4 separate regions of the Homo sapiens genome follow, and all the other regions are linked to region 2. Evidence: fine-mapped expression QTL. A gene starts in region 2. Each other region holds a variant in brackets. All regions are shown on one strand. Distances are between the middles of the regions.

Region 1 (5,151 bases), 110 kb after region 2:
AATCCTATAAAACGGCCCCACCCCTATCTCCCTTCACTGACTCTCTTTTCGGACTCAGCCCACCTGCACCCAGGTGATTAAAAGCTTTATTGCTCACACAAAGCCTGTTTGGTGGTCTCTTCACATGGACGTGCATGAAATTTGGTGCCGTGACTCAGATCCGGGGACTTCCCTTGGGAGATCAATCCCCTGTCCTCCTGCTCTTTGCTCTGTGAAAAAGATCCACCTACGACCTCAGGTCCTCAGACCAAGCAGCCCAAGGAACATCTCACCAATTTTAAATCGGGTAAGCGGCCTCTTCTTACTCTCTTCTCCAACCTCTCTCACTGTCCCTCAACCACTTTCTCCTTTCCACTCTTCAATCTCTCCCTTCTCTTAATTTCAATTCCTTTCATTTTCTGGTAAAGACAAAGGAGACACGTTTTATCCATGGACACAAAACTCCGGCGCCGGTCACGGACTAGGGAAGGCAGCCTTCCCTTGGTGTTTAGTCATTGCAGGGACACCTCTCTGATTATTTACACACGTTTCAGAGGTGTCAATGCAGGAGGGACGCCTGCATTGGTCCTTCACCCTTAGCGGCAAGTCCCGCTTTTCTGGGGAAGGGGCAAGTACCCCAACCATTTCTCTCCGTGTCTCTACCCCTTCTCCACCTTTCTGGGGGGCAAGAAACCCCCAACCCCTTCTCCTTCACTCTTAGTGGCAAGTCCCGCTTTTGTAGAGGAGGGGCAAGTACCCCAACCTTGTATCTCTGCGCCCCAATCCCTTATTTCCGTGGCCCAACCTCTTATATCTCTGCGCCCCAATCCCTTATTTCCGTGCCCCGACCTCTTATCTCTGTGCCCCAACCCCTTATTTCCATGCCCCGACCTCTTATCTCTGTGCCCCACCCCTTATTTCCATGCCCCAACCTCTTATCTCTGTGCCCCAACCCCTTATATCTGTGCCCCAACCCCTTTCCCACTTTTCTGGAAGGTAAGAACCCCCGAACCCCTTCCCTCCATGTCTCTACTCTCCCTTTTCTCTAGGCTTGCTTCCTTCACTATGGGCAACCTTCCACCCTCCTTTCCTCCTTCTTCTGCCTTGGCCTGTGTTCTCAAAGACTTAAAACCTCTTCAACTCACACCTGACCTAAAACCTAAATGCCTTATTTTCTTCTGCAATGCTGCTTGACCCCAATACAAACTCAATAGTAGTTCCAAACAGCCGGAAAACGGCACTTTCAATTTTTCCATCCTGCAAGATCTAAATAATTCTTGTCATAAAATGGGCAAACGGTCTGAGGTGCCTGACAACCAGGCATTGTTTTACACATCAGTCCCTCCCTAGTCTCTGTGCCCAGTGCAACTTGTCCCAAATCTTCCTTCTTTCCCTCCTGCCTGTCCCCTCAGTACCAATCCCAAGTGTCGCTGAGTCTTTCTAATCTTCCTTTTCTACAGACCCATCTGACCTCTCCCTTCCTCCCCAGGCTGCTCCTCGCCAGGCCGAGCTAGGTCCCAATTCTTGCTCAGCCTCTGCTCCTCCACCCTATAATCCTTTTATCACCTCCCCTCCTCACACCTGGTCCGGCTTACAGTTTCGTTCCATGACTAGCCCTCCCCCACCTGCCCAGAAATTTACTCTTAAAAAGGTGGCTGGAGCTAAAGGCATATAGTCAAGGTTAATGCGCCATTTTCTTTATCCCAAATCAGATAGTGTTTAGGCTCTTTTTCATCAAATATAAAAACTCAGCCCAGTTCATGGCTCGTTCAGCAGCAACCCTGAGACGCTTTACAGCCCTAGACCCTAAAAGGTCAAAAGGCCGTCTTATTCTCAATATACATTTTATTACCCAATCTGCTCCCGACATTAAATAAAACTCCAAAAATTAAATTCCAGCCCTCAAACCCCACAACAGGATTTAATTAACCTTGCCTTCAAGGTGTACAATAATAGAAAAAAGTTGCAATTCTTTGCCTCCACTGTGAGACAAACCCCAGCCACATCTCCAGCACACAAGAACTTCCAAATGCCTGAACCACAGTGTCCAGGCATTCCTCCAGAACCTCCTCCGGCAGGAGCTTGTACAAGTGCCAGAAATCTGACCACCAGGCCAAGGAATGCCTGCAGCCCAGGATTCCTCCTAAGCCGTGTCCCATCTGTGCAGGACCCCATTGGAAATCAGACTGTTCAACTCACCTGGCAGCCGCTCCCAGAGCCCCTGGAACTCTGGCCCAAGGCTGTCTGACTGACTCCTTCTCGGCTTAGCAGCTGAAGACTGACGCTGCCCGATTGCCTCGGAAGCTCCGTAGACCATCACGGATGCCGAGCTTCGGGTAACTCTCACAGTGGAAGTTAAGTCTGTCCCCTTAGTCAATACGGAGGCT[A/C]CCCACTCCACATTACCTTCTTTTCAAGGGCCTGTTTCCCTTGCCTCCATAACTGTTGTGGGTATTGACGGCCAGGCTTCTAAACCCCTGAAAACTCCCCCACTCTGGTGCCAACTAGGACAACACTCTTATGCACTCTTTTTTAGTTATCCCCACCTGCCCAGTTCCCTTATTAGGCCAAGATATTTTAACCAAATTATCTGCTTCCCTGACTATTCCTGGGCTACAGCCACATCTCATTGCTGCCCCTCTCCCCAACCCAAAGCCTCCTTCGCGTCTTCCTCTCATATCCCCCCACCTTAACCCACAAGTATGGGACATCTCTACTTCCCTGGCAACCGATCACATGGCCGTTACCATCTCATTAAAACCTAATCACCCTTACCCCGCTCAACGCCAATATCCCATCCCACAGCACGCTTTAAAAGGATTAAAGCCTGTTATCACTCGCCTGCTACAGCATGGGCTTCTAAAACCTATAAACTCTCCTTACAATTCCCCCATTTTACCTGTCCGAAAACTGGACAAGTCTTACAGATTAGTTCAGGATCTGCGCCTTATCAGCCAAATTGTTTTGCCTATCCACCCTGTGCTGCCCAACCCGTACACTCTTTTGTCCTCAATACCTTCCTCCACAACTCACTGTTCCGTGCTTGATCTTAAAGATGCTTTTTTCACTATTCCCCTGCACCTCTCGTCCCAGCCTCTCTTCGCTTTCACTTAGACTGACCCTGACACCCATTAGGCTCAGCAAATTACCTAGGCTGTACTGCTGCAAGGCTTAGTAGACAGCCCCCATTACTTCAGTCAAGCCCAAATTTCATCCTCATCTGTTACCTATCTCGGCATAATTCTCATAAAAACACACGTGCTCTCCCTGCTGATCATGTCCGATTAATCTCCCAAACTTCAATCCCTTACAAAACAACAACTCCTTTCCTTCCTAGGCATGGTTAGCGCAGTCAGAATTCTTACACAAGAGACAGGACCACACCCTGTAGCCTTTCTGTCCAAACAACTTGACCTTACTGTTTTAGCCTAGCCCTCATGTCTGCATGCAGCGGCTGCTGCTGCTTTAATACTTTTAGAGGCCCTCAAAATCACAAACTATGCTCAACTCACTCTCTACAGCTCTCATAATTTCCAAAATCTATTTTCTGACCCACACCTGACGCATATACTTTCTGCTCCCGGGCTCCTTCAGCTGTGCTTACTCTTTGTTAAGTCCCACAATTACCATTGTTCCTGGCCCGGACTTCAGTCCGGCCTCCCACATTATTCCTGATACCACACCTGACCCCCATGACTGCATCTCTCTGATCCACCTGACGTTCACCCCATTTCCCCACATTTCCTTCTTCCCTGTTTCTCACCCTGATCACACTTAGTTTATTGATGGCGGTTCCACCAGGCCTAATCGCCACACACCAGCAAAGGCAGGCTATGCTATAGTACAAGCCACTAGCCCGCCTCTTAGAACCTCTCATTTCCTTTCCATTGTGGAAATCTATCCTCAAAGAAATAACTTCTCAGTGTTCCATCTGCTATTCTACTACTCCTCAGGGATTATTCAGGCCCCCTCCCTTCCCTACACATCAAGCTCAAGGATTTGCCCCCACCCAGGACTGGCAAATTAGCTTTACTCAACATGCCCCGAGTAAGATAACTAAAATGCCTCTTAGTCTAGGTAGACACTTTCACTGGATAAGCAGAGTCCTTTCCTACAGGGTCTGAGAAGGCCACCACAGTCATTTCTTCCCTTCTGTCAGACATAATTCTTCAGTTTAGCCTTCCCACCTCAATACAGTCTGATAACAGACGAGCCTTTATTAGTCAAATCAGCCAAGCCTTTTTTCAGGCTCTTAGTATCCAGTGACAGACTAATGGTCTATTAAAAACACACCTCACGAAGCTCAGCCACCAACTCAAAAAGGACTGGACAATACTTTTACCACTTTCGCTTCTCAGAATTCAGGCCTGTCCTCAGAATGCTACAAGGTACAGCCCATTTAAGCTCCTGTATAGACGCTCCTTTTTATTAGGCCCCAGTCTCCTTCCAGACACCAGACCAACTTAGACTGTGCCCCCAAAAACCTGTCATCCCTACTATCTTCTGTCTAGTCATACTCTTATTCAGCGTTCTCAACTACTCATACATGCCCTGCTCTTGTTTACACTGCCAGTTTACACTGTTTCTCCAAGCCATCACAGCTGATATCTCCTGGTGCTATCCCCAAACCGCCACTCTTAACTCTTAAAGTAAATAAATAATCTTTGCTGGCAAGGCTATGCTGAACCTTCTTAGGCACTCTCTAATGAGATGTCCTAGGTCCTCCCAATTCTTAGTCCTTTAATACCTGTTTTTCTCCTTCTTTTATTCCATTTAGTTTTTCAATTCATACAAAACTGTATCCAGGCCATCACCAATAATTCTAAATGACAAATGTTTCTTCTAACAATCCCACAATATCACCCCTTACCACAAAATCTCCCTTCAGCTTAATCGCTCCCACTTTAGGTTCCCACGCCGCCCCAATCCCGCACGAAGCAGCCCTGAGAAACATCGCCCATTATCTCTCCATACCCTCATCCAAAATTTTCATCATCCCAACACTTTACCACTATTTCGTTTTATTTTTCTTATTAATATAAGACAGGAATGTCAGGCCTCTGAGCCCAAGCTAAGCCACCGTATCCCCTGTGGCCTGCACGTACACATCCAGATGACGGGTTCCTGCTTTAACTGATGACATTCCACCACAAAAGAAATGAAAATGGCCTGTTC
Region 2 (5,151 bases):
GACAAGGTTTCTCTATGCTGGTCAGGCTGGTCCAAAACTCCCGACCTCAGGTGATTCGCCTGCCTCAGCCTCCCAAAGTGCTGGGATTACAGGCGTGAGCCACCGCGCCCTGCCCTGAATAACAACTTTTAAGGGCAAGTGGCAAGTGAGTTAATAGTCATACTTCCTATCCTCAGTTTCACCAGTACAACCCACTTTTTCTGGGGATGCAGTTACCACGAATTGGATTCCTTAAGAGTGGGACTGAAGGAATAGGTTAATTAAATATTATTATTGATCCTCTGTACATTTTTTTCCCTGTGTCAATTTCACTGTGTTTATTTTGTCAGATTTTCAGTGTTAGTATCTCTGTGCTCAAGCTTCCCTTGATCACAAAATGCTTCTCTTGGTCTTGGAGTTGAATATACTTTATGTCCCAGGGGGCTGAATATCAGAGTGGAAGTAAATAGCAACAATTTAGTTCTGTAGACCTTATCCCCTTTGTTCTCAAGATAGTGTATCTATCTTATAGGGCGTTTGTTCCTCTAAATTTTGTAAACCAACTAGACGCCTATCCTAGGTTACTCTCACTGACCTAACATTATAATAGCACTAAACACTTTGAACAGCACTTGATCTGTGTCAGCTGTTAAATATTATATACTTATTAACTCATTTACTCCTTATGACAACTCCATGAAGTAGGTGACTATTTTTATCCTCACTTTTACAGCTCAGCAGATAAAGATACAGAGAGGTTAAGTTACTGCAGAGGTTCACATAGGGAGTGGAACCATAAATCCAATCCGGGCAGTCTGGATCCAGAAGTTACCACCCTGGGTTATGCTACATCTTTTAAAGGACTCTCGAGACGCTGAAGGAAATTAGTCAAAAAATTTTTTAAAAGCAGAAAATGAAATTATATTGTCAATTGACTGGGAGAGGAGCAGTGAAAAGTTGTTGGCTGAGGTCACTGAGACAGGGCTGAGACCAGCAAGAAGGCAAACTGGTGAGCACATTACCGTACCTCACACCTGGTGTCTCTGGTGACTGAAGTTATTTGGAAGTGAATCTTCCATGTAAACCTGGGAGGTCGTCTGTAGCCCTTTTTTTTTCTCCTTAAGAAAATGTAATAGCGTAGTTGAACATTCATATTCTTAGCCTCCTTTGGGCTATACTTTTATTTTTTATACATAGTTTTAGAATTTACAAAATGCTCTTAAAATATCTCATTTCATTCTCACAACGACTCCGGACTGTACTCTTTTATCTTTTCACAACAAAGGCTCAGAGGAAGCGTAGCAACTAACTTGTCCAAGGTTTACGCCGGTTTCTAGGGGGCAGAGCTGGCGCTATCCACCCCGCCTGTATCTCCAAACCCGCTTCAGCCAGGAAATTTATCATGTGGTTTTAAATTTGCCTCTCAATATACAGAGGTACTGTCTTTACTCCAGTCCCGGATAAAGACCTTCTAGGTATGAATGATCTTTGTCTCCATATCTTTGCCTACCGGAGGGAGGAACCACCGTAAGCGGAGACTCCGGGCGGCGGCCGGCGGAAGGGCTGGGCGGGAGGCGTCGGGATGCCGGCAGGACCCTGCGCCCGAGGGGGTAGGGGGCTCGTGTCGGGGTTCCAGGCGCAGATTGATGGGGCCTAAGCAGGGAATGTGAGGGCGGGGAGGGCGTACAACGGAAGGGACTAATCTCGCGGTTTCGAGTTGGGAGCAAACCTCGCCCCCCACCCCCCCCATCCGTTTCCCTTTCTCAGTGAAGACGGTTTGGGGGCGGGTGGGGAGGCGCGTCCTCGGAGCGCCCTCGCGCTCCCTTTTCGCTCCCCGCGCGCGATCCATCGCCTCTCTTCCCCCGAGGCCAGCGATGGCTCGGGTGCGGGCGAGGAGCTGGGAGGGCGGCTCTCGACGCAGGTGTCAGATCCGCTCGGCAGTGCTCGGCGCGCTGGCCCGGCCCCCAGCTCCTCCGGCCGCCGCCCCCCGCCCGCCGCGCCGCGGCGCCAGGAGGGCGGGGCCGGGGCGCGCGCCGCTCCTCAGCAAGCGGGCGGGCGGCGTTCGGTCTGAGGGAGCGGGGCGGTCTCCGCCGGCGTCGCGCGCGCTGTGTGTGAGCGGGGTCGCGCGCGCGCGCGGCAGGCGAGTGAGGGAACGAGGAGCGGCCGGGTGTGAGTGTGTGGGAGTGAGAGTGTGTGGGAGTGGGGTGAGGGAGAAGCTGACGGGACGCGAGGCTGTGAGAAACTGGGCGAGTGTGCGAGGACGCCCGGCCAGCCTGCGGGAGCCGCAGTCGGCGGAGGAGAAAGGAGGCGGCTCCCGGTATCCCGACCCCCTCCCCCTCCTCTCCTTCCCCCACTTCCAGCCGCCCGGCGGCCCGCGCTTCCTCGAAGGCCCCAGCCCGGCTCAGTCGGCCGAGAGCGAGGGAGGAGCCCCCCGACCCAGGTGAGCGGTACGACCGCTGTTGCCCTCGGGTGTAGAGCAGTGAGGCGAAGGCGCGCCCTCCCGAGTGGGCGAGTTCAGCGGAATGGATCCCCCGATTAGCGGGGGCTGGGCCGGGGAGGGGACCGGCCCGAGCGCGCCCGGGGTCCGGGGCTAGTTGAGGCCGGTGGTCGCCGCTCCGCGGAGTCGGTGGGGAGCGAGGCGGGGCCCGGCCTTCGCGCGTGTGCCGGGAGGCGCCGGCCCGTGGCGTGTGCGTGCGACCGGGCGAGCCGTGTCGAGGGGGCGGCGACTTCGGGCGTGTAAGGAGTATGGTTTCCCCGCCGGCGAGGGGGTGTGGTAACCCCGGGAACGCCGGCTGGAGTCGGACCCGCGGGCTGCTGACCTGTCCTCGGGATTGCGGCGACACTCCCCCTCCCCCCCCTTCCCACAAATTCTATGGAGCGACCGCGGGAGGAGGATCACGTGGTGCGGTCCCGCAGCTACTGTATTCGATTCCACGTTTTCCTCCTTACGTGTAAATTTTAGAGAGTGTGACAGTCATTCCATCTTTTCCTTTGACAGTCTCTGAATGAGAAGGGGATGACCAAATAATTGCTTGTCCAGTTTTGATTCTTTAAAAATTTGAGCATGATGTAAATATTACACTACTTGCCCCTCACCCCCCCCCAAAAAAAACCCAAACCAGAGTGGTAATAATTTCAATCTCCCCTTATTAATATGTCCTTATCTCTGATCACACATTTGTTATTTCACTGTTTTATCCCATTTGTATTGGCGAATAGCGATGGGGTGGTAATTCTGTTCTGTGAGGGGTTATTGCACTAACCATGCTCAATGCAACTGCTATGTAAATTCTTTCAGTATGCTGTCATTTTCCCATTAGTTATATATATTGTTACCACATCTTTGTGGAGTTAGGTTCAACTCTAAATAGGTATAGAAAGTATATGGGCAGCCTACTATGCAGATTTTTTTTTGTGGGCTTGGTATGTTCATTATATTTATGGGTGTTCTTAATTATTAACTATAACCATTTAAATTGAAATGTTTTTAAATCTCATTTTTGTTACTTTCACAATATTGGGTACCTTAAAGGTCATTTCTTCTATTTTAAAAAATGATTTCTTAAAAGCAATTATGAGAATACTTTTAAGATATTCATTTGGAATAAAACACTCTCTGAAATTCCGGTCTCAGAGATTTAACATTTATTTCCTAAATTTTAGTATGCAACCCTCTAATTTTAAAAATAATCATAGTTAAATTTCTTTTCCAATGGTTACTGTTTTATTTGGTTAGTGTGTCAAAGGGGAGGAGGCCTATTTTGTCTTGAGGTAATCCTATTTTATTCTTTTCTATCTTGGTTAGTGCTGTTAATTTCCTTCTTTCATGTCATTGATTTAGTTGTTAGTTTGGCAACATGGCTGTTGATGTTTTTTATCTTTCTCTGTCTCCCTTTTTTCTCTCTTGTCTTCTCTTACCCCTACCAGGTGCTGGAGTCTGCTTGTCAGGGAGGGGGGCAGTCTGTGATTCTGAGAACAGAGCCAAGAAGGGGAACAGCAAATTCAGTCACAGACAATCCTCCACTCGGTCAAGAGCCACTTTTCTCTTCCTGCCTTGCCCCCCCGCAGGGGGTAAGGAACTGAGCGTTTAATCTTTAGCCGGTTGGCTACCAGCTAAAATTCTACTTATCTTAGTTTCTAGTGGATAGCTTTCTTATTTTGCCCATGTTTTCTTAGAATCCCTGTTTAATATACTTTTGTCAGTAGTAGTATCTAGGAGTAGCAGGGAGAGTGACAATAAATTAGCCCCTTCTTTTTTCCCTTGTCATTCAGGCCCCTTTTCCTCTCCAGAGGGAAATTACCAGTAAACTCTTCTAAATCTTCCACCCCTTCTCAGTCATACTGTGAAGAAACACACTAAAGTGGACATTATTTGACCAGTGAACACGAACCCAGCTTCAGGCATTGGTTTGTTGTGGCACATGGAGAAACATCTCTTTTAAAATATCTCCCAATTACCCTTTTCACAATTTGTATCCACCTAGGATTTGCTGCTGGGGTAAGTCACTAGATTTATTTCTCAAAGCTCCCCTCTCTATGAGCTGAAAGACTGACCAACCATGAACACTAGTAGGGGATGGGGAAAGGGGACAGAGCAGAGCCAGTTGTTCCACACTTTGGGAAGCAGGAGTAGCTTTTATCATCTTCCTCTGGGGAGCAGGCATAGAGACATAAACTGAGTGAAAATGGGTGGAGGAAGAACTTCTATACCCACGAACAACATGTGAAGAGAGAGAACCAAACATAAAGTAAGGAGGGTGAGTTTTATTGTATGTTGCTTGCTGACAACTGTTTTGGGGGCGCTTCAGTGATATACATTCATAGAAAGACTTTGTTTTATGGCAGATTAGTTTACAAAGAGTATTCTGCAAGTGGGATTAAGTCACAAGCAAATGAGAAAAGAGCCTCTAGAAATTGTAATTATGTGGCCTGGCGCAGTGGCTCACACCTGTAATCCCAGCACTTTGGGAGGATGAGGCAAGCTGATCACTTGAGGTCAGGAGTTTGAAACCAGCCTGGCCAACATGGCGAAACCCTGTCTCTGTGAAAAATATAAAAAGTAGCTGGGCATGGTGACGCACACCTGTAGTCACAGCTACTCAGGAGGCTGAGGCACAAGAATCGCTTGAACCTGGGAGGTGGAGGTTGCGGTGAGCCGAAATTTTATCACTG
Region 3 (5,151 bases), 23 kb after region 2:
TAGGTTTACAGCAAAATTAGGCAGAAAGTACAGGGATCTCCTATGTATCCTCTGCCCACATACATGGATATCTTTGCCCCATTTTGAACATCCCTTACCAGAAGGACATGTTTGTTGAACTTGATGAACTGACATGACACATCATCATGCAAAGTCCATAGTTTACATTACTGCTTACTCTTGGGTGTTCTATAGTCTGTGGCTTTGGGCAAATGCATAATTACATGTATCCACCACTGTGGTATCATACAGAATAGTTTCCCTGCACTAAAAATCCTGTGCTCTGGCTGTTCATTCCTTTCTCTTTCTCCCTCCTGTTCATCCTCCTCCTTCCCTCCCTCTCACCCATCTCTTGACAACCACTGACCCTCTGACTGTCTCCACAGTTTTGCCTTTTCTAGAATGTTATAGTTGGCACTGTGCAGTATGTAGTGTTTTCGTATTAGGATCTTTCACATAGTAATATGAATTTAAGGTTTTTCCACGTCTTTTCCTGGCTTGAGAGCTCATTTCTTCTATTGTATAATTATATTTCATTGCCTTCATATACTGTAGTTTATTTATTCAACTGCTAAAAGACACCTTGCTTCTAATTCTAAGCCCTGGGATTATAAATTAAGCTGGGTTTTTTTGTTTTGTTTTGTTTTGTTTTTGAGATGGAGTTTCGCTCTTGTCGCCCAGGCTAGACTGCAATGGTGCGATCTCGGCTCACTGCAACCTCCACCTCCCAGATTCAAGCGATTCTCCTGCCTCAGCCTCCCAAGTAGCTGAGATTACAGGCGCCCACCATTACGCCCAGCTGATTTTTGTATTTTTAGTAGAGACGGGGTTTCACCATGTTGGCCAGGCTGGACTCGAACTCCTGACCTCCGGTGATCCGCCCGCCTCGGCCTACCAAGGTGCTAGGATTACAGGCATGAGTCACAGTGCCCAGCCTAAGCTGGGTTTTTTGTCTTCCAATTTAATAATTATTGAGGATCTACTTAGTAATGTGGGAGATTCAAAATAACTATTACAAGTGCTTAGATGCTTAACAGCAAAAAGATATATAGAAAACCAAGTAAAAATACAAAATTGCATTCATGAAATGCCTGTTTCATAAAGGACAATGTACAAGGTTGTGGATACAAGGATGGAAAAGACAAAATTGTCAACTCCTGAGGTTCTTGTTCTGATAAAGGAGACTGACAAGGAGTCTGGCCTCAAGGTAGGGCCTGGTTGTGAGTAGAGATAGATCATGAGCTGTTTTCATATTTGGGTTACTTGGGAGTGAGTGTAGGTGTGCACCAAGGATGGTAAAGAATGAAGCCTTCATTCAAAGCAAGATTGGTACTGAGACTTGGTGATAAGTTTGGTATAGCTAGATGATGGAACTTTCAGTGCCAGGATAGAGTCCGGATTTGAGCCAGTAATGAAGACATTTTTCAGTTGTGAGTAGAATATAGAACATTAAGACATTGAGGACATATATTTTGACACCACAAAATCCATATTAAAACACATTCATTAGGAGAATATGAGAAGTCATATCATCAGTAACATTCTTTTTCTTAGTTTCTTTTGATGGGTAAAAGACCTAATTAAAAGGTACAAAGTTGGATTCATACTTTTGAGTTCAATCTTTTGACGCTTAGTGGTCAACTAATATTTGAGAAACTTTTATGTGCCAGATACTTTCCAGTGTATAATAGTAAATAAAGGGTCTCTGTTCACATGGAGCTCAGGAGTCTAGTAGAATTAAAGACTATAAACTATACTAAGCAGCTGAGGATGCATTTTAATTCCCTTTGAGGGTAAAGTATCATTATCCCTCGTGTGTGTGTGTGCGACACGGAGTTTGGCTCTTGTCGCCCAGGCCGGAGTGCAGTGGCGCGATCTCGCTCACTGCAACCTCTGTCTCGGGTTCAAGCGATTCTCCTGCCTCAGCCTCCCGAGTAGCTGGGATTATAGGTGCCTGCCACCACGCTCAGCTAATTTTTGCATTTTTGGTAGAGATGGGGTTTCACCTTGTTGGCCAGGCTGGTCTGGAACTCCTGACCTTGAATGATCCGCCCCCCTCGGCTTCCCAAAGTGCTGGGATTACAGGCATGAGCCACCGCGCCTGGCCTACCCGTTTTAAATAAGAGATTAAGAAGCTTGCCTATGGCCTTGTAGCTAGACACAAAGTGAGACCCCTTTGAATATTATGTTATGCTGCCTCAGAGTCTACTGGGACAGATTTAATACCCTGGAACCAGGTAATTTTTAAAAGACTATTTAAAAACAAAAATGTTAACCAGTGACTCTTCCAGAAGTGCTAGGATATGGTTTAAAAAGGAGACTGTTAATAGGTAATGTCTGCCTTTTGAGAGTTTAATTGTAATGTGTTTTGATGAAGATCTCTTTATAGGCACACCTTGGAGATACTGCAGATTTGGTTTCAGACCACCACAGTCAAGCAAATATCACAATAAAGCGAGTAACACAAACTTTTGGTTGATGGCTACTGACTAGTCAGGGTGGTGGTTGCTGAAGGTGGCTGTGGCATTTTCTTGAAATACGAAAACAATGAAATTTGCCCCATTGACATTAAAGATTTCTCTGTAGCATGTGATGCTATTTTCCAACATTTTACCCACC[G/A]AATTTCTTTCAAAATTGGAGTCAGTCCTCTTAAACCCTGCTGCTGCTTTGTCAACTCAATTTATGTAATATTCTAAATCTTTGTCGTCATTTCAACAATGTTCATAGCCTCTTCACAGGAATAGATTCCATCTCCATTGGAATGACCATTTGGTCATCTGTAAGAAGCAACTCATCTGTTCAGCAATCTTCATGAGACTGCAGCAGTTTAATCCCGTCTCAGGCTACACTCTCAATTATAGCTCTCTTGCCATCTCCACCACATTTGCTGTTATTTCCTTCACTGAAGTCTTGAAGCCCTCATAGTCATCCATGAGGGTGAGAATCAGTTTCTTCCACATTCCTATCAATGGTGATATCTTGACCTTCTCTCATGAATTATGAGTGTTTTTTGTTTTTTGTTTTTTTTTGAGATGGAGTCTGACTCTGGCACCCAGGCTGGAGTGCAGTGGCACGATCTTGGCTCACTGCAACCTCAGCCTCCTGGGTTCAAGCGATTCTCCTGCCTCACTCTCCCAAGTAGCTGGGACTACAGGTGTGTGCCACTATGCCTGGCTAATTTTTGTATTTTTAGTAGAGATGGGGTTTTGCCATGTTGGCCAGGTTGGTCTCAAACTCCTGACCTCAGGTGATCCACCCACCTCGGCCTCCCAAAGTGCTGGGATTACAGGTGTGAGCCACCGCGCCTGGCCTATGAGTGTTCTTAATGGCATCTAGAATGATGAATGCCTTTCAGAACTTTTTCAGTTTACTTGCCGAGATCTTTTAGAGGAATCACTGTGGCAGCTATAGCCTTATGAAATGTATGTCTTAAATTATAAGATTTGAAAGTAGAAATTACTCCTGTTTGTCAGCTGTCTCACAGAGCTAAAAAAAAAAAAAATTACTTCTTGATCCATGGGCTTGCAGAGTCCATGTTGTGTTAGCAGCTATGAAAATAATGTTAATCTTTTTATACATCTTCATCAGAGCTCTTGGGTGACCAGGTGCATCATCAGTGAGTAGTAATATTTTGAAAGGAATATTTTTTTTCTGAGTAGTAGGTCTCAACAGTGGGCTAAAGATATTTAGTAAACCATACTGCAAGCAGATGTGCTGTCATTCAGGTTTTGCTGTTCCACTTAGCACAGGCAGAGTCCATTTAGCATAACTTTTAAGAACCCTAGGATTTTTGGAATGCTAAATGAGCATTGGTTTCAACTTACAGTCACCAGCTGCCTTCGCTCCTAACAAAAGAATTAGCCTCTCCCTTGAAACTTTAAAGCCAGTTATGGACTTCTCTTTAGCTGCTATCAAAGTCCTAGAGGGCATCTTCTTCCAGCAAAAGGCTGTTTTGTCTACATTGAAAATCCATTGTATAGTGCGGCCACCTTCATCAATTATCTTAGCTAGATCTTCTGGATAACTTGCTGAAGCTTTCACATAAGCAGCTGCCGCTTTACCTTGCACTTTGCACTGTGCTATACAGATGGCTTCTGTTCCTAAATCCCATGAACCAAACTCTGTTAGATTCAAACTTTCCTTCACCTCCGTCAGCCTTCAAAGAATTGGAGAGTTAGGGTCTTACTCTAGATAAGGCTTTGCCTTAAGGGAATGTTGTGGCTGGTTGGATGTTTTATCCAGACCACTAAAACTTTCTCCATATCACCAATAAGGCTGCTTTGCTTTCTTATCATTCATGTGTTCACTGGAGTAGCACTTTTAATTTCCTTCAAGCACTTTTCCTTTGCATATACAACTTGTCTAACTTTGGCACAAGAGGTCTAGTTTCTGGCCTGTCTCACCTTTTAAAATACCTTCTTCACTAAGCTTAATCTTTCAATTTAAAGTAAGAGATTGTGTGACTCTTTTTTGCCCTTGAACACTTAGAGCCACTGTAGGGTTATTAACTGGCCTAATTTCAATATTGTTGTCACAGGGAATAAGGAGGCCCAAGGAGAGGGAGAGAGATGGGGAAGCCAGTTGGTGGAGCAGTGAGAATGTACACATTTATTCAGTTTGCCCTCTATGTGGTTGCAGTTAGTGTCGCCCATTTATAATAGTAACATCAAAGATCACTATAACAGATATGATCAAAATGGAAGTTTGAAATACTGTGAAAATTATCAAAATGTGACACAAAGACACAAAGTGAGCACTTGCTGTTGCAAAAATGACACTGATTGACTTGCTTGACACAGGGTCGCCACAAATCTTCATTTGTAAAAAACACAATAACTGCAAAAGGCAATAAGTTAAAGCACAATAAAATGAGGCATGCTTGTATATTTAATCTATTTGGAGTTTGCTGGGCTTCATGAATCTAGATGTTTATTTCTCTCTAGATTAGGGAACTTAAAAAAAAATAAACTGTTGTCCTTTTGTCTTTCTCTACTCCTTCCGGAATATCCATAATGCATATTATGGTTCACTTGACACTGGCCTGTAATTCTCATAGGCTTTCTTCAGTTCCCTTTTTTTTTTTTTTTTTTTTTTTTGGAGACAGAGTCTTTCTCTGTCGTTCAGGCTGCTGGAGTACAGTGGTGCAGTCCT
Region 4 (5,151 bases), 74 kb after region 2:
TTCTATAAGCAGTATATAGCTAAGTTTTGTTTTTTATTCAAATCGGACTAGTTTCCATCTTTTAATGGAAGATTTGGTCCATTTTTTGTGTAATTACTAATATACTTAAAATTTCTTCCATCTTATTTTGTGTTTATTATTTAACTCAAATTGTTCCTTTTTCTTTTTCTTTTCTAATTTTTGCTGGTTAGTAAGGTACCATTTTATTTTCACTCCTGCCACCAAACCCAGTTAATTTGGGAGATCAACCAGGGTTTTGCATTCCATTAATGGTTACCTTCTATTTTCTTATGCTCATAATCAGACAGATTCTCTACAGTTACTTGAGAAGATAATTTTCCTTGATACTTTATTTACTACTTCACTGTATCATCATAATAATAATGAAGTCTTTGGAATACCTTTACTTTCCCCTGGTGTTCCTTGTTCCCTCTCCCCTCCAATGGGAATATTAGAACAATTTTATTTCCTTCCTACTCTTTCCACTTGATTGACTCATTTATTGAGTAAATAGTTTCAAGTACCTCCAAAGCGTCAAGTACTGTTGTAGCAATAATTTTTTTTTTTTTTTTGGGAGATGGAATTTTGCTCTTGTTGCCCAGGCTTGGAGTGCAATGGCATGATCTCAGCTCACTGCAACCCCCGCTTCCCGGGTTAAAGTGATTCTCCTATCTTGGCCTCCCACATGCAGGCACCTGCCACCACACCCAGCTAATTTTTGTATTTTTAGTAGAGACGGGGTTTCACCATGTTTGCCAGCCTGGTCTCTAACTCCTGACCTCAGGTGATCTGTTCGCCTCGACCTCCCATAGTGCTGGGATTACAGGCATGAGCCACCGCGCCTGGCCTATTGTAGCAGTATTTTGTATATACTAGTGAACAAAACAGACAGAAATCCCTAGTCTCATTGACCTTATATTCCAGTTTTGCTGAAATCATCTAATAGTTTTAGTTCATCTGTTTGGAATTTGTTTTACTGTATGTCTCTTCTGTTTCATGAACCCTTATATAGCACTTTATCCATTCCCAGGCAGTCTGTCTTTATCCACTTAAAATGAATTATACCTATATTGCAAAGTACTCACCATGGTTTACTCCTCATATTCATCTTCCCATATCTTGAGATCTCTGTTAGCCATTTACTAGTATGTTAGTATCATTTCTTGATTATTTTTCCTGGTGGGCTATCAGAGTCATAGATACCCTCACATATTCTGTTAATACAAAAAATACACTCAAAGTGCTTTTTCTATTCTCTCATTCAACAACAATTCACATGGAACACTTATTTGACCACGTGTGGGGGATTTCTCTATTTGGAGATACCATCAGATCTGACAGGTTGAGGGCTCAGTCACCAGGAGTCACCAAGAATATCCCCAACTTCCCACCTCACCCCCTTCAGACACCAGTTGCAAGTCCAGGCCTACAGAACTTCTGACCAACTGGCTTCAAGTTGGGGTTCCCGTGACTTTCTGCTTAGGTTTGATTAATTTGCTACAGCAACTCACAGAACTCAAAGAACACTTACATTGTGTTATCTGTATATTATAAAGGATATTTCAAAGGATACAGGTGAAGAGATGCATAGGGCAAGGTATGGGAGAAAGGATATGGAGCTTCCATGCCCTCCCACGGCTTGCCACCCTTCAGGAGCCTCTACGTGTCCAGCTATCCAGAAGTTTTCTGAACCTTGCCCTTTTTGATATCCAATTGGATAGACATAATTGATAACCATGTAAAAATGTAATTGGACCAAAAGGGTATGATCTAACACTAGTAGACTGAGTAGGGAAACCCAGCAAGGCCTGTATGTTCAGATTCTTCTTGGCCTCTCTGTGCCACATTCCTTCCTCCAGGGTATGGGGCAGGACCTCATCTGGAATGAGGTCTTATGACCCACAATCAGAAAGGCTGTGAAAGATTAGAGTCCTGCTGTGGGGTAGGTGAAAGGAGGACAGGGGAAGGTTAGATTCTATTTTCTAAGGAAAGTGCCCCAACATTATAACAAAAGACTATAACAAGGGCTGTTGGAGTGATATGCCAGGAACTGTGGACAAAAACCAATATATAATTTAGATCAGAATATCACACATCTTTCTCCTTGGAAGAAGAATAATACTTTGTCTGAGATATAATTCTTATATTGTAAGAGTCTAGCTTCAATTCTACTGCCTTGAAGATTTTATTGTTGCAGTTTAATGTCCAAATCTACTCTCATTTTTTTCCTTTGTGGGTAATTTATTCTTTGTAAATTTTTTTAGTGG[C/T]GCTCACATTTTATTGGGATTTTGTAGATATATTTGTGTCTTATCAGTTCAACCTGGATTTTAGCTGTTTTAGTCAGCAGACTAAATTTCTTCCTTATACAGTTTTCTGGAAAATGTCTTCATTAATTATTGCCTCTCCATCTGTTTCTGTCCTTCTGAGGAATATTTTTCTGATTCAGTTCTCCAGTTTTGTTTTTGTTTTGTTTTGTTTTTGTTTTTGTTTTTGAGATGGAGTCTCGTTCTGTCGCCCAGGCTGGAGTGCAGTGGCACAATCTTGGCTCACAGCAACTTCCACCTCCTGGGTTCAAGCGATTCTTGTGCCTCAGCTTCCTGAGTAGCCGGAACTATAGGCGCCTGCCACCACACCGGGCTAATTTTTGTATTTTTAGTAGAAACGAGGTTTCACCATGTTGGCCAGGCTGGTCTTGAACTCCTGACCTCAAGTGATCCACCTCAGCCTCCCAAAGTGTTGGGATTACAGGCATGAGCCATCACAGCTGGCCCAAATTTTTTATCTTTATGATTTCACCTCACATTTTTAGCTATGCTTTGCATATTACTTGATTTTCTAAGTCAACTCTCAAAGCGACTGTACTCTCTTTGAGTTTCTCTATTGGATTTTTTAGTTGAGTAATCATGTTTTTGTTTTAACTTCAGAAAATCTTTTTGTGCTGAACTTGAATCTCCTTAAAGAGCTCTTATTTCTTTCATCAAAGTCATAGATGGATTATTATTGTTTTGTTTTTACATCAGGGCTCACTCAGCTTGGGTTATTTGTAGTATTCTACATGGCCTCAGTCTTAGAAGTGCTGTGAAGCAGAATCATTTAATTCACGGGCCAGTCTTCTACGGAGGTACCTAAAAGAAGCCTTTTGTTTCCTTGACTTCTTTATTCCTACAGCCTCAGTGGTAGGGAGGATCCACCTCACCTGTCCAGCTACTTCTGGCCTTTTTGGGGTCAAACACTACGGGTAAACTCACATGTCATCCTCACTCCTATGGATACACAGAGCTCTTGGAACCAAGCTCTTCTTAAAGTTCTTTACTTTCCTGTCCTTAGTTCAGAGCTTCGTGAAGCTGATCTCCAAGTGAGAAAATCAAGTTCTACTTCCTTTCTCTTCCTTCCTTTTGGCAAGGCCAAAGACTTCACTTATATCCAGCCAGCTACCTTATAACCCAGAAGCCTTTTGGTTTAGGAATGACAGCTAGATTGAAGTGGGGGCTATAGAGGAAGAAAACTGTGTTCACGTCACCACCTTCCCAGATTTCACCCCATCCTCCGTTCTGTTATGCATTTTTATTATTTTTATAAATCAAAAACCAATAATACTTTTGCCATCTATCAAGTGGTCTAATTGTATTTATGCTGAACTTCCTTATACTTGGTTTATATTATTGCAAGTAAGATAGACTTGGAAAAAATATTGACAACTTACGAAATCATCAATTCCTGGGAGACTGGATAGGGAGAGGATTCCTGATTAAGGAAATCTAGACTTAGAAGTCCTAATTTTACACTAGAATAACGCCTTTGTTTTCACTATTAATTTAGAAGAAAGGCTTAGCCTTGGAGGCCAACTTTAATTTTATTTCAAAAGTTTATGATTTTGTTAATTTCCTGTCTTGTTTCTTTTGCCAGGTGGTGTGGGGATGATGTGCTCATTGAGTGAACAAGGGAAGCAGCTAGCTATCCAGGTGTCTAATATCCTGGGGATGGATGTGTGTGGCATTGATCTGCTGATGAAAGATGACGGCTCCTTCTGCGTCTGTGAGGCCAATGCAAATGTAGGTTTCATCGCCTTTGATAAGGCTTGTAATCTAGATGTAGCTGGTATCATAGCAGACTATGCCGCCTCCCTTCTACCCTCTGGCCGGCTCACCCGGCGTATGTCCCTGCTCTCCGTGGTGTCCACTGCCAGTGAGACTAGTGAGCCGGAGCTGGGTCCCCCAGCCAGCACTGCTGTTGACAACATGAGTGCAAGTTCCAGCTCTGTTGACAGCGACCCTGAAAGCACGGAGCGAGAGCTGCTCACCAAGCTCCCAGGGGGCCTGTTCAACATGAACCAGCTGCTAGCCAATGAAATCAAACTACTGGTGGACTGACTCCACTGGTAATTAACCAACAAAACCCTTGTAAAACTTTCTTTCTTCTTTTCTATTTTTAAAACCAACTTGCAATGCTGTTCATGGAGGATGCTCAGGAAGATGAGAGAAAATTAGTAGGATTAGTTGGAGAGAGTGGGAGATAGATGAGACCTCTGCTAGTAAGATGTTACTTTCATTTACAAATCCTACAAATAGAGAGGCAGAATAGGTGGGGTATAGAAAAATGTCAGGCTCTCATAGTTACCCTTTTAAATTGCTAAAAAATGTGTATGCTCATAGGCCATGAGGAACAAATACTTTTTTTTTTTCATGGTCCCTTGCTTTTGTTTTTGTACAAAAAAAAATGGTTTTGCTACAAATATCCAAGTAGCATAACTTCACATTGTGTTGGAAGATTTGTCATCAGTGAGGAAAACATCTGCATAAATTACAGGAATTTTTGTATTATACAGCTCTGAAAATTCTGCCATTTCCTTATTAACTAGCAGCTTTAGTTTGTAGTTTATGAAATCTTGAGGGGCTCTTTTACTGGGATTTCTTATTTTTTTGTTTTTTCCCGCTTAATTTGGTGGGAGGTCAAATTGAATATAACCCAATAAAGGCTTCTTAATGACAAAATTGGCATGTTTGCATGATGAAATGGAAATGAACAGTATTGCAATGTCCGGTATACAAAATAACATTAATTCAATGTAGATAAAATTACACTAGTTTAAAATATGTGCATTCACTTGTATTTGTTAGTGTTTTAGTCTTTTTTGAAAGATGTGCTCTGTTA

What was found. PIP is the estimated chance that this variant, and not a neighbour inherited with it, causes the effect.
Region 1: its variant is the best candidate, but not a certain one, in a credible set for the expression of RIMKLB in lung (TOPMed, PIP 0.67).
Region 3: its variant is the best candidate, but not a certain one, in a credible set for the expression of RIMKLB in whole blood (INTERVAL, PIP 0.90).
Region 4: its variant is the best candidate, but not a certain one, in a credible set for the expression of RIMKLB in whole blood (TOPMed, PIP 0.77).

The regions. Positions count from the first base shown.
Region 1 is chr12:8,805,144-8,810,294 of GRCh38, forward strand. All of the region lies in intron 1 of A2ML1-AS1 (A2ML1 antisense RNA 1), which reads right to left. Among named protein-coding and RNA genes, the nearest start is that of A2ML1, 15 kb to the right of the region's middle. RefSeq lists enhancers at 1-549, 1,256-1,963, 4,915-5,151. The variant A/C (reference allele first, on the strand shown) is at 2,367.
Region 2 is chr12:8,695,879-8,701,029 of GRCh38, forward strand. RIMKLB (ribosomal modification protein rimK like family member B) reads left to right here and starts at 2,113. Exons shown (of 6, transcript NM_001297776.2): 1 at 2,113-2,419. RefSeq lists silencers at 1,918-2,017, 2,548-2,717 and an enhancer at 1,942-2,908.
Region 3 is chr12:8,718,733-8,723,883 of GRCh38, forward strand. The region is part of intron 2 of RIMKLB (ribosomal modification protein rimK like family member B); the gene reads left to right. Among named protein-coding and RNA genes, the nearest start is that of RIMKLB, 23 kb to the left of the region's middle. The variant G/A (reference allele first, on the strand shown) is at 2,620.
Region 4 is chr12:8,769,415-8,774,565 of GRCh38, forward strand. RIMKLB (ribosomal modification protein rimK like family member B) reads left to right here. Exons shown (of 6, transcript NM_001297776.2): 6 at 3,907-5,151. The coding sequence ends at 4,370. Among named protein-coding and RNA genes, the nearest start is that of LINC02972, 16 kb to the right of the region's middle. RefSeq lists enhancers at 2,693-3,194, 3,195-3,694. The variant C/T (reference allele first, on the strand shown) is at 2,268.